Homo sapiens: one gene and its partners. The protein of the gene in region 2 purifies or fractionates together with the protein of the main gene of each other region. This does not show direct contact. Each region holds a gene or a part of one and is shown on either strand. Other genes may lie near its edges.

Region 1 (3,653 bases), on a different chromosome or scaffold from region 2:
TTTTCCTGCTTACTTTTGGAAACATTGTCTCTACCATTACTGAATATTAAATAATAGCCATGTACCCCTCCCTCACACCATATACGAAAATAAAATTATTTGTGGCCTAAATGTAAGCGAAAAATCTATAACCTTGTTTAGGTAATGGTTTATTGATGACACCAAAAGCTCAAGCAGCAAAACCAAAAATTGACAAATTGGGCATCATTAAAATGAAAAATCTTTGTGCTTCAAAAAATGCCATCAAGAAAATAAAAAGACGGCCCACAGAACAGGAGAAATTTTTTATAAATCATATATCTGATAAAGGATTTGTATCCAGGATGTATACATAACCCTTAAAACCCAACCACAAAAAGAGCCCAATTAGAAAATAGGCAAAGGATAAATATCTATCCAACGTGGATACGCAAATGGCCAATAAGCATGTGGAAAGATGCTCAGCATCATTAGTCCTTAGGGAAATGCAAATCAAAACCACAAGATACTACTTAACATCTCCTAGAATGACTGTAATTCAAAGATGGACAATAAGATGTGTTGGGTAAGATCTGAAGAAATTAGAATCCTCATTCACTGCTGAGGGAATGTAAAATAGTACAGTCACTTTGGAAAAATTTTGGCATTTTCTCAAAAAGTTAAATACAGAATTATCATGTGACCCAGAAATTCTACTTCTAGCTACAAACCCAAGAGAAATGAAAACATAGATCCACACAAAATTTTGTATGTGAATGTTCATAGCAGCGTTATTCGTAATAACCAAAAAGTGGAAACAATACAGGTATCCAAGAAATGATGAATGGATAAACAAAATGTGGCATATTCATGAAATGGAATACTATTCAGCTATCAAAAGTAATGAAGTATGAATACATATTACATCATGGATGAGCCTTGAAAACATGCTAGAGAAAGGAAACCAGATGCAATAGGCCACATATAGATGATTCCTATAAATTTTCCCATTTATATGAAATGTCCAGAATAGGTAAATCTGCAGGGACAGAAAGAAGATAAATCGTTGCCACTGGCTATGGAGAAGAAAGAATGGGGAGTGACTGCTAATGGTTTTGGGGTGTTTTGGTGGGGAGGGGAGGTTGAAAACGTTTTGAAATTAGGTATTACTAGTTATACTACCTTGTAAATATACTAAAAAGCCACTGAATTGTACACTTTTTACATTACACTATGTAAATTGTACATCAATAAAGCTGTAATTTTTTAAAAGTATGGATAGTGTCATGTACACCCATGTTAATAATATGGTACTCTGTTATTCCTAGATTTCTCTTTTGACAGTAATAAATTTGATTTCTTTTGCAGCAACAAAATGCTTCAACAAGTTCCAGAAAACATAAATTTTCCTGCTGAAGAAGAGAAAATCTTGGAGTTTTGGACTGAATTTAATTGTTTTCAGGAATGCTTAAAGCAATCAAAACATAAACCAAAGTATGTGAATTTTTTAGGTTAAGTTCCCTTAAGAATAGTCATTTCTTAGACTGAATTCCATTAAAGCAGATACTTTTTTTTTTTTTTTTTTTTTGAGATGGAGTCTCGCACTGTCATCCAGGCTGGAGGGCAGTGGTGCAATCTCTGCTCACTGCTACCTCTGCCTCCCGGATGCAAGTGATTCTCCTGCCTCAGCCTCCCGAGTAGCTGGGATTACAGGTGCCCGCCATCACACCAGCTAATTCTTGTGTTTTAGTAGAGACGGGGTTTCACCATGTTGCCCAGGCTGGTCTCGGACTCCTGACCTCAAGTGATCCACCCACCTCGGCCTCTCAAAGTGCTGGGATTACAAGTGTGAGCCATCACGCGCGGCCTAAAGCAGATACTCTTTATTAATCTTTCTATTCCCAGAATCCCCCAGCTCCCTATGTAGTGGGTACTCAGTAGTAGATATACATTGAATGAATGAGTTCTCAATTATTGGGGTAAATTTTGTTTCTTTAAAAGGTCATCTGAGTAAAATTTATGTGTCATCCTCCGTGTCACCCTCTTTCCACCTTTATTTTCATCACCACCCTCGTTTAGGCACTTATACCTAAGTACCCCATAGAAGGCTACTATAGTACTACCTGCCTTTAGTCCTCATTCACCTAAAAGACTAGTCCTTTAATCAGTGTTTTCATTATATGTCTCCTCTGGTCAAAAACTATGAGATAGGGGTTTATTGCCCTATTTTACTGATGAGATAACTCAAGATCAGGATAAATAATTTGCCTTATGTCATGGAACTAATAAATGAAAAATGGATAATCAAATGGAGGTCTCTGTAGCTCTACCACAATTGTAGCCTTTCTGAAGGCAGGACCACCAGTAAATATCAAATCAATTATGTCTGTCGGTTTCCTGATCTTGCTGCTTTTCTCCTTGAAGACTCCACTATGACAAGAGCTATCTATAGAAAAATGCCTTAAATTTTGGCTGTTTTTAAATGGCTTGATATATTTTTATTACCTGTTAGATTTACCTTCTATGATGGTCCTCCTTTTGCAACTGGACTGCCTCACTATGGACATATACTTGCGGGTACAATTAAAGATATAGTTACAAGATATGCTCACCAGAGTGGGTTTCATGTTGACAGAAGATTTGGATGGGATTGCCATGGCTTACCTGTGGTATGTTTGAGTATCCAGCTTTATAATTTTCTGATTTTTTTTATAAGCATTAGATTTTGTCATATAATATGTTCAAGTATGATGAACGTTGACTGTCAGACCTTCTAGTTCATTTCTATAATATTTGTAGTTTGATTTGTTTTGTTTTCTAGAGTTGCATAGTTGCAGTTGTTTTCATAGGGCAGCGTGGTAACAGTCTTATCACAAATTTTCAGGAATATGAAATTGATAAGACACTGGGAATCAGAGGACCAGAGGATGTGGCCAAAATGGGGATTACAGAGTATAACAATCAGTGCCGAGCAATTGTGATGAGATATTCTGCTGAGTGGAAGGTATGTTGGGTTTTTTTCAGTAGAATGAACAGCAAATGTAGTTACTAAATGGGCATTGAAATGGTTTATGGTCCCTTGTGCTTTTTTTATTAATTTATTTTTTGTAGAAAAAGTGTTAGCTTCCACCTTCAACCCTATTACTTAAACGGTTAGCTTAAACTGAACCATCTCTCTTCTGACTTCTGTGTGCTTAATTGGTCTAACTTTCTTGCATGATCACCAATAGGGAAAAATTCTAATAAGTATAACATGATATATAGGCCTTTTCTTTTTTTCTCAAATACTTTTTTCAATTTTTTTAACTTTTCATTTTGAAATAATTTGACTTATTAAACAATTGAAAAAGTAGTATGATGGGTTCCCCTATATCCTTCATCCATCTTTCCCAGCTGCTAACATCTTCGGTAACCATAATATTAATAGAATTTTCAAAAGCAGTTGCCCCATTAATTTTTATTTCTGACCAATCACATATTGCATTTGGTTGTCATGTCTTTTTAGTCTTCTTAAGTATGGAACATTTATTTAGTCCTTTGTATTTCATGGCCTTCTCACTTTTGAAGATTGCAGAACAGCTATTTTCTATAATGTCTCTCAATGTGTGAGGTTTCCTGATTTAATTTAGGTTATGCATTTTTGGTGACAATGCCACAGAAGTGATGCTATGCCCTTCTCAATGCATTATATCAGG
Region 2 (3,653 bases):
GCCCACAACACAGCACATGGTCCCAGTGACACTGCATTGTTACATTAGTACTGCTTATTCCTCTGTAGCTCCCACAGGGCAGGAAGGTTTTTTGTTTTGTTGTTTTTTCATACAGTCTCACTCTGTCACCCAGGCTGGAGTGCAGTGGCACCATCTCATCTCACTGCAACCTCTGGCTCCTAGGTTCAAGCAATTCTCCTGCCTCAGCCTCCTGAGTAGCAGGGATTACAGGTGTGCACCACCATGCACAGCTAATTTTTTTGTATTTTTTTTTTTAGTAGAGACAGGGTTTCACCATGTTGGCCAGGCTGGTTTCCAACTCCTGACCTCAGGTGATCCACAAGCCTTGGCCTCCCAAAGTGCTGGGATTACAAGCATGAGCCACCACAACTGGCTGGAAGGTCTTTAAGGACAGAAAACCAGTTACCTTGTTCACTGTATCCCCTACTTGTCAAAACATATTTGTTGAATAAAAGAATGCATAAAATAAAAGAACAAATCCTTCTATTACTTGCCCCTAAGTCATTGCCCTCTTCTCCTTCCTCCTCCGTCTTCCTTTAAACAGGCTTTGGTGGCTCAGAAATCTAATGCATTTTATTTCTCTCTATGTTTAGATATGGATTAGATATAAATTAAGACTGAAATGTAACCTAAATCTGGCTCAAAGACAAGCTGTCACTTCCCCTTCAGAGCTGGTGGGTACTTAGGGAAGCTTGACCTCAGCTTATTTGCTGATCCAATGCCCATAACACACCTTCTCTTCTATGATACTTTTCTTGTCAGGCCAAACAAGACAGACGTAGCAGTGATTCACTAATCTCCTTTTATTTTGCATTAATATGAATTACTAACTTCAGTAATATATAGTAGGCTGGGCACAGTGGCTCACACCTTTAATCCCAGCATTTTGGGAGGCCAAGGCAGGCAGATCACCTGAGGTCAGGAGTTTGAGGCCAGCCTGGCCAACATGGTGAAATCCCGTCTCTACTAAAAATACAAAAATTAGCTGGGAGTGGTGGTGGGCACCTGTAATCCCAGCTTCTCAGGAGGCCTAGGCAGGAGAGTCACTTGAACCTGGGAGGCGGAGGTGGCAGTGAGCCAAGATCACGCCATTGTACTCCAGGCTGGATAACACAGTGAGACAGCATCTCAAAAAACAAACAAACAAACAAAAACTATATAGTATCTGCATTATGTATCCTCCCAACTAGAATCCTAAAAATGTCTTTCAATTATTACTTATCCTCACTTTTCAGCATGGTCTTAGGAGCCACAGAGTGTGAGTAAGACGGATGCCTTTGGCACTTTGACCACTAAGTCTTAGAGAGTTTGGATGAGGGAGTTCAGCAGTCTAGGTTTGGCAGTGCTGGGGAATTAGTCTCAGTACTGCAGAATGTGGATGATGAGCCATTTTCGTTAGATAGATATTTTGCCTCCCCAGCAGCTCTCAAGAAAATCCTGAGATAGGCTCTTAGCTACAGTGCTTGGGAGGGATTTTGAATGGAAAGTGTAGCTGAGTTCCTTGAAATTCTGCACCATTTTTTAAAGGGCTGGTGCTGAAATGCGGGTGCCATATGTAACACTGGAGTAAGAGATATTCTGAGCTCACCCATATTTTATGATCTGTAAGTGCTTAACAAGGTAAAGCAAAACCAAAATGAGGGGGCAGGAGTGAGGAACGTGGGGGGTGGAGCCATCAAAATGCATGTTGGAGATTTCCGAATATGAAAGCATAAAGGCAGGAACAGTAATGGGAATTGGATCAATAGAAAAGTTTAATTAGTAATTTAGGTCAAGCTAAAGATAGTTCGCTAGAGCAAATATTGTAGAAGCATATTTTTAAAGTGTGATTTTTTTTTACATACTAGTTAATTTTTTTTAGAAATAAGTCCAAAAATAAAGGTAAATATCAACATTCCTAACATTGGCAGAAAAGACTCCTGACTTATGAGTGGGATGCTGTTTCCTGCCTGCTAAGGAAAGCTAGGATTCCTAGCTTGTCAGCTTGTTTGAGCGTGAAATCATTGGCTCCTCACCAACCTGGGGATGAAGATTTTTATCCATTCTATGGGGCTCAAGAAAGTTCAGCTCGCAGGGTAAAAAGAGTCTTCGAAGAGCTTTAACTGAAGGGATACGCAGTGTCTCTATAGAGATCCACATCCTCTGTAATGGGAAAGCAGGTGGTTCTGGACCTCACTCTCAGTGAATCCTTCTGGCCCAGAAATGAGGACAGCAGCAGTGACCTACCCTGGTCCTTGGTCTAAGAGCAGGCTTACCCAGCAAGTGGCCAGGTTTCTCTGGCAAACTGCACAGTGATGCTGGCAAATTTATAAAAGACCATGTGGGAAAGTGGAGGAGAAGGAGGTGGAGGAGGTGAAGGAGGTGCAGGAGGAGGAGGACAGGAAAAGCAGACAGTAAGGCAAGTTCGGTGCTGCGTTGGCCTCCTCCTGCAGCTGCCATGGCATGTGGAGAAAGGATTATTATTATAGTTTGTTTACTCTCACATCTATTTCTCTGCAGCATTCTGAAATGACATTGTAAGTATTTACAACAAAGGGAAATGAAAATCAAAGATGTAACTAGAGCAGTAGAGGAATCTTCTATTTGGTAGTTCGAGGTGCCAAAATATTACTCTAATTGCTTTCTAGAGCCTGCTGTGACGTTTTTCGGAGAAGAATTCACTTAGCTACTTCTGTAACATTAGGGTAACCTTGGCCTCTTTTTCCCTCCTAGGTCAGGGCATTCACCCAAAACGCCATTTGCTTCGGGAAATGACTGGTCATGTGGTTCTTCCACTTTCTCTCTCCTGTCTCTCTCTCTTTCTCTCTCTCTGTTGTCTCTGGAGGATAAGCTCACAGCAAGGCAAAAGAGAAAAGCATGAAGTGAAATATTCCTAGGCTTGCCGGGCACGGTAGCAAACGCCTGTAATCCTAGCACTTTGGAAGGCTGAGGCGGGTGGATCACCTGAGGTCAGGAGTTTGAGACCAGCCTGGCCAACACGGTGAAATCTTGTCTCTACTAAAAATACAAAAATTAGCAGGGTGTGGTGGCGTGCACCTGTAATCCCAGCTACTCAGGAGGCTGAGGCAGGAGGATCACTTGAACCCGGGGGGTGGAGGTTGCAGTGAGCTGAGAGGGCACCACTTCACGCCAGGCTGGGTGACAGAGAGAGACTCTGTCTCAAAAAAAAGAGAAGAAACATTCCTAGGATTGTGCCCATAGAAAACAAAGGATTCTCGTTCTAACCCAGTGGCTTAAGGAACATCTTGCTATCTCTGAGTTTGTTAGAGTGACATCAGCCAGTTTGAAAGACCTTGGTAGCTCAAAGATTTTAGTCTCTAGAAATAGCAAGGTGAAAAAAGAAAAGTCCCCCAAATTGTTAAAACATATTTAGACTCAAGTCCCTGTAGGACAAAAATTAAAATATGCCAGAGGGGAAAAATGAAAGTTAATAGTTTGAGAATTAAAAATAAATCGGAATATGTATTTATAATGTTTATTACTCAGAAATGTGATCTTTCCCATAGAATGATCTTTCCGAAAGCAGCTGAATTTTCTTTGAACTCTGAATCTTTCTGGGCCAGTATTTATTTAGGTTGTACTGTAAAAAAAATTACAGGAAAAAAACGATGAGTACATAGCTTCCGGTGTGG
Region 3 (3,653 bases), about 99 Mb from region 2:
CTAGAAATTGCATTAAATGCAGAAAATAATTTGGGTAGTAAATTTTGATCAGTAGTATGTAATTATCTTGAGCCCCATTTTTTTAAATACACTTTTTCCATCTCCTTTGGCAAGAGAACTTTGGTAAGCTGTTTACTGAATTTATTAAAATTCGTCCTTTCTAAAATATAGACCATCTATTCCTAGGCCCTTGGACTGGACAGTGCCAATGAGAAAGGCTTGTATAGGAGGGGTGAAGCCCAGCTGCTCATGAACGAGTTTGAGTCAGCCAAGGGTGACTTTGAGAAAGTGCTGGAAGTAAACCCCCAGAATAAGGCTGCAAGACTGCAGATCTCCATGTGCCAGAAAAAGGCCAAGGAGCACAACGAGCGGGACCGCAGGATATACGCCAACATGTTCAAGAAGTTTGCAGAGCAGGATGCCAAGGTGTGTGCAGAGCCTGATGACTGCAGGTGGATCAAGAGCCTGACCATGCCCCTTTGATTTTAGGGGACAGGAACAGCTAAACAACCCAAGAGGCTCAAGAGCAGGGAAAACGATTTCCAATCTAATCTGAGGCTGCTTTGGATCCAAAGGTCGAGTAGGGCAGTTCCAGTCACCAAAGGCACACGTCATGAGAGATGAGAAAACTAAATTCCCTTCAGATGTATTAGATTGGTTCAAAAGTAATTGTGGTTTTTACCATTACTTTCAATGGCAAAAACAGCAATTTTGCACCAACTCCCCCCGCCCGCCCCCCGGGCCCCTGCCCGAGTCAGAGTCTCACTCTGTCACCCAGACTGTAATGCAGTCGTGCTAACATGGCTCACTGCAGCCTTGACTTCTCTGGATCAAGTGATCCTCCCACCTCAGCCTCCTGAGTAGCTAGGACAAGCACACTACCACACTGGGCTAATTTTTTAAAATTTTTTGTAAAGATAGGGTTTCACTTTGTTGTCTAGGCTGGTCTCGAACCCCTGGCTTCAAGGGTTCCTCCTGCTTTGGTCTCCCAAAGTGCTGGGATTATAGACATGAGCCACCATGCCCAGCCCTTTTGTCATTTTTGAAAAATTGTAAACCCATCAGGATTTTTTTTTCAAGTAAGACTTACGATTTTCCCAGGAAATGGGATGTTATAGGAGCCCCATCATCACACCTGTTATCTTGAGGGTCGGCAGCCAGCCTGAAAAATGTGGCAGGAGAGGTCTGTCTGCAGAGAGGGCGGCCTCCCTACAGCATAGTTGGCATTCTGGTCCTGTCCCCAGTCTCCAGGAATGCCCAGACTTCATTATCCCACAGCTGTCCCATGTGTCAACCAAAGAAAGGTGAAGCTCCCACTCTAACTATTGGTAGCACAGCCCTGACCTACCCAGCTAGATATCCTAGAGAAAATCATTGCAATACCTCGTGTTTGGGACCTGATACACAGTCTGGAGGAGCCAGGAATTATTTCACTTCTTTATTCTCTAACCTTCTTGATTGCTTATTTCTTCCTTAGGAAGAGGCCAATAAAGCAATGGGCAAGAAGACTTCAGAAGGGGTCACTAATGAAAAAGGAACAGACAGTCAAGCAATGGAAGAAGAGAAACCTGAGGGCCACGTATGACGCCACGCCAAGGAGGGAAGAGTCCCAGTGAACTCGGCCCCTCCTCAATGGGCTTTCCCCCAACTCAGGACAGAACAGTGTTTAATGTAAAGTTTGTTATAGTCTATGTGATTCTGGAAGCAAATGGCAAAACCAGTAGCTTCCCAAAAACAGCCCCCCTGCTGCTGCCCGGAGGGTTCACTGAGGGGTGGCACGGGACCACTCCAGGTGGAACAAACAGAAATGACTGTGGTGTGGAGGGAGTGAGCCAGCAGCTTAAGTCCAGCTCATTTCAGTTTCTATCAACCTTCAAGTATCCAATTCAGGGTCCCTGGAGATCATCCTAACAATGTGGGGCTGTTAGGTTTTACCTTTGAACTTTCATAGCACTGCAGAAACCTTTAAAAAAAAAATGCTTCATGAATTTCTCCTTTCCTACAGTTGGGTAGGGTAGGGGAAGGAGGATAAGCTTTTGTTTTTTAAATGACTGAAGTGCTATAAATGTAGTCTGTTGCATTTTTAACCAACAGAACCCACAGTAGAGGGGTCTCATGTCTCCCCAGTTCCACAGCAGTGTCACAGACGTGAAAGCCAGAACCTCAGAGGCCACTTGCTTGCTGACTTAGCCTCCTCCCAAAGTCCCCCTCCTCAGCCAGCCTCCTTGTGAGAGTGGCTTTCTACCACACACAGCCTGTCCCTGGGGGAGTAATTCTGTCATTCCTAAAACACCCTTCAGCAATGATAATGAGCAGATGAGAGTTTCTGGATTAGCTTTTCCTATTTTCGATGAAGTTCTGAGATACTGAAATGTGAAAAGAGCAATCAGAATTGTGCTTTTTCTCCCCTCCTCTATTCCTTTTAGGGAATAATATTCAATACACAGTACTTCCTCCCAGCATTGCTACTGCTCAGCTTCTTCTTTCATTCTAATCCTTGCTATTAAGAATTTAAGACTTGTGCTTACAATATTTTTGACCTGGAGTGGATCTATTTACATAGTCATTTAGGATCCATGCAGCTTTTTTTGTCTTTTTAAGATTATTGGCTCATAAGCATATGTATACTGGTTTATGGAACTTTATTTACACTCCTCTATCATGCAAAAAAATTTTGACTTTTTAGTACTAAGCTTAATTTTTAAAAACAAAATCTGTAGGGTTGACAAATAAATAGTTGCTCTTCTACACTAGGGGTTTCACCTGCAGGTTTGACACGCAGTTGCTCGCTTTTCCTGCCCTGTCAAGCTTCTCTGTTCTGGCGTGAGTTGTGAAAGAGTTGAAGACAGCTTCCCATGCCGGTACACAGCCAGTAGCCTAAATCTCCAGTACTTGAGCTGACCATTGAACTAGGGCAAGTCTTAAATGTGTACATGTAGTTGAATTTCAGTCCTTACGGGTAAACAGATTGAGCATGGCTCTCTATTCCCTCAGCCTAAGAAACACTCATGGGAATGCATTTGGCAACCCAAGGAACCATTTGCTTAAACCTGGAACATCTCACCTTTTTAAATCCTAAAAAACACTGGCAGTTATATTTTAAATTAGTTTTTATTTTTATGATGGTTTTATCAAAAGACTTTTATTATTAGATTGGGACCCCCTTCAAACCTAAAAATCAAGTTATTTCCTTTTATAATACTTTTCTTCCCCATGGAACAAATGGGATCAATTTGTGAGTTTTTTCCTTTAATGATAACTAAAATCCCTCTAATTTCTCATTTATGCTTTTGTCTTTTTTATGAAATATTTCTTTTAAAAGCCCCAGTCTCACCTACGAAATATGAAGAGCAAAAGCTGATTTTGCTTACTTGCTAAACTGTTGGGAAAGCTCTGTAGAGCATGGTTCCAGTGAGGCCAAGATTGAAATTTGATACTAAAAAGGCCACCTAGCTTTTTGCAGATAACAAACAAGAAAGCTATTCCAAGACTCAGATGATGCCAGCTGTCTCCCACGTGTGTATTATGGTTCACCAGGGGGAACTGGCAAAAGTGTGTGTGGGGAGGGGAAGGGTGTGTGAGTGGTTCTGAGCAAATAACTACAGGGTGCCCATTACCACTCAAGAAGACACTTCACGTATTCTTGTATCAAA

The links.
Region 1: the proteins of SGK1 (region 2) and IARS1 purify together in Homo sapiens (affinity purification with mass spectrometry, with the first as the bait; one large-scale study listed by BioGRID). This does not show direct contact.
Region 3: the proteins of SGK1 (region 2) and FKBP5 purify together in Homo sapiens (affinity purification with mass spectrometry; 3 studies listed by BioGRID and IntAct, with this or other methods). This does not show direct contact.

Annotation. Positions count from the first base shown.
Region 1 is NC_000009.12:92,287,100-92,290,752, reverse strand, and holds part of IARS1 (isoleucine--tRNA ligase, cytoplasmic), read left to right. Parts: intron 1-1,326; 5' UTR 1,327-1,333; coding exon 1,334-1,452; intron 1,453-2,470; coding exon 2,471-2,627; intron 2,628-2,779; coding exon of another isoform or gene 2,780-2,842; coding exon 2,843-2,962; intron 2,963-3,653. UniProt on the Homo sapiens protein: Catalyzes the specific attachment of an amino acid to its cognate tRNA in a 2 step reaction: the amino acid (AA) is first activated by ATP to form AA-AMP and then transferred to the acceptor end of the tRNA.
Region 2 is NC_000006.12:134,308,104-134,311,756, reverse strand, and holds part of SGK1 (serine/threonine-protein kinase Sgk1), read left to right. Parts: intron 1-3,653. UniProt on the Homo sapiens protein: Serine/threonine-protein kinase which is involved in the regulation of a wide variety of ion channels, membrane transporters, cellular enzymes, transcription factors, neuronal excitability, cell growth, proliferation, survival, migration and apoptosis.
Region 3 is NC_000006.12:35,573,767-35,577,419, reverse strand, and holds part of FKBP5 (peptidyl-prolyl cis-trans isomerase FKBP5), read left to right. Parts: intron 1-186; coding exon 187-426; intron 427-1,477; coding exon 1,478-1,585; 3' UTR 1,586-3,653. UniProt on the Homo sapiens protein: Immunophilin protein with PPIase and co-chaperone activities. Component of unligated steroid receptors heterocomplexes through interaction with heat-shock protein 90 (HSP90).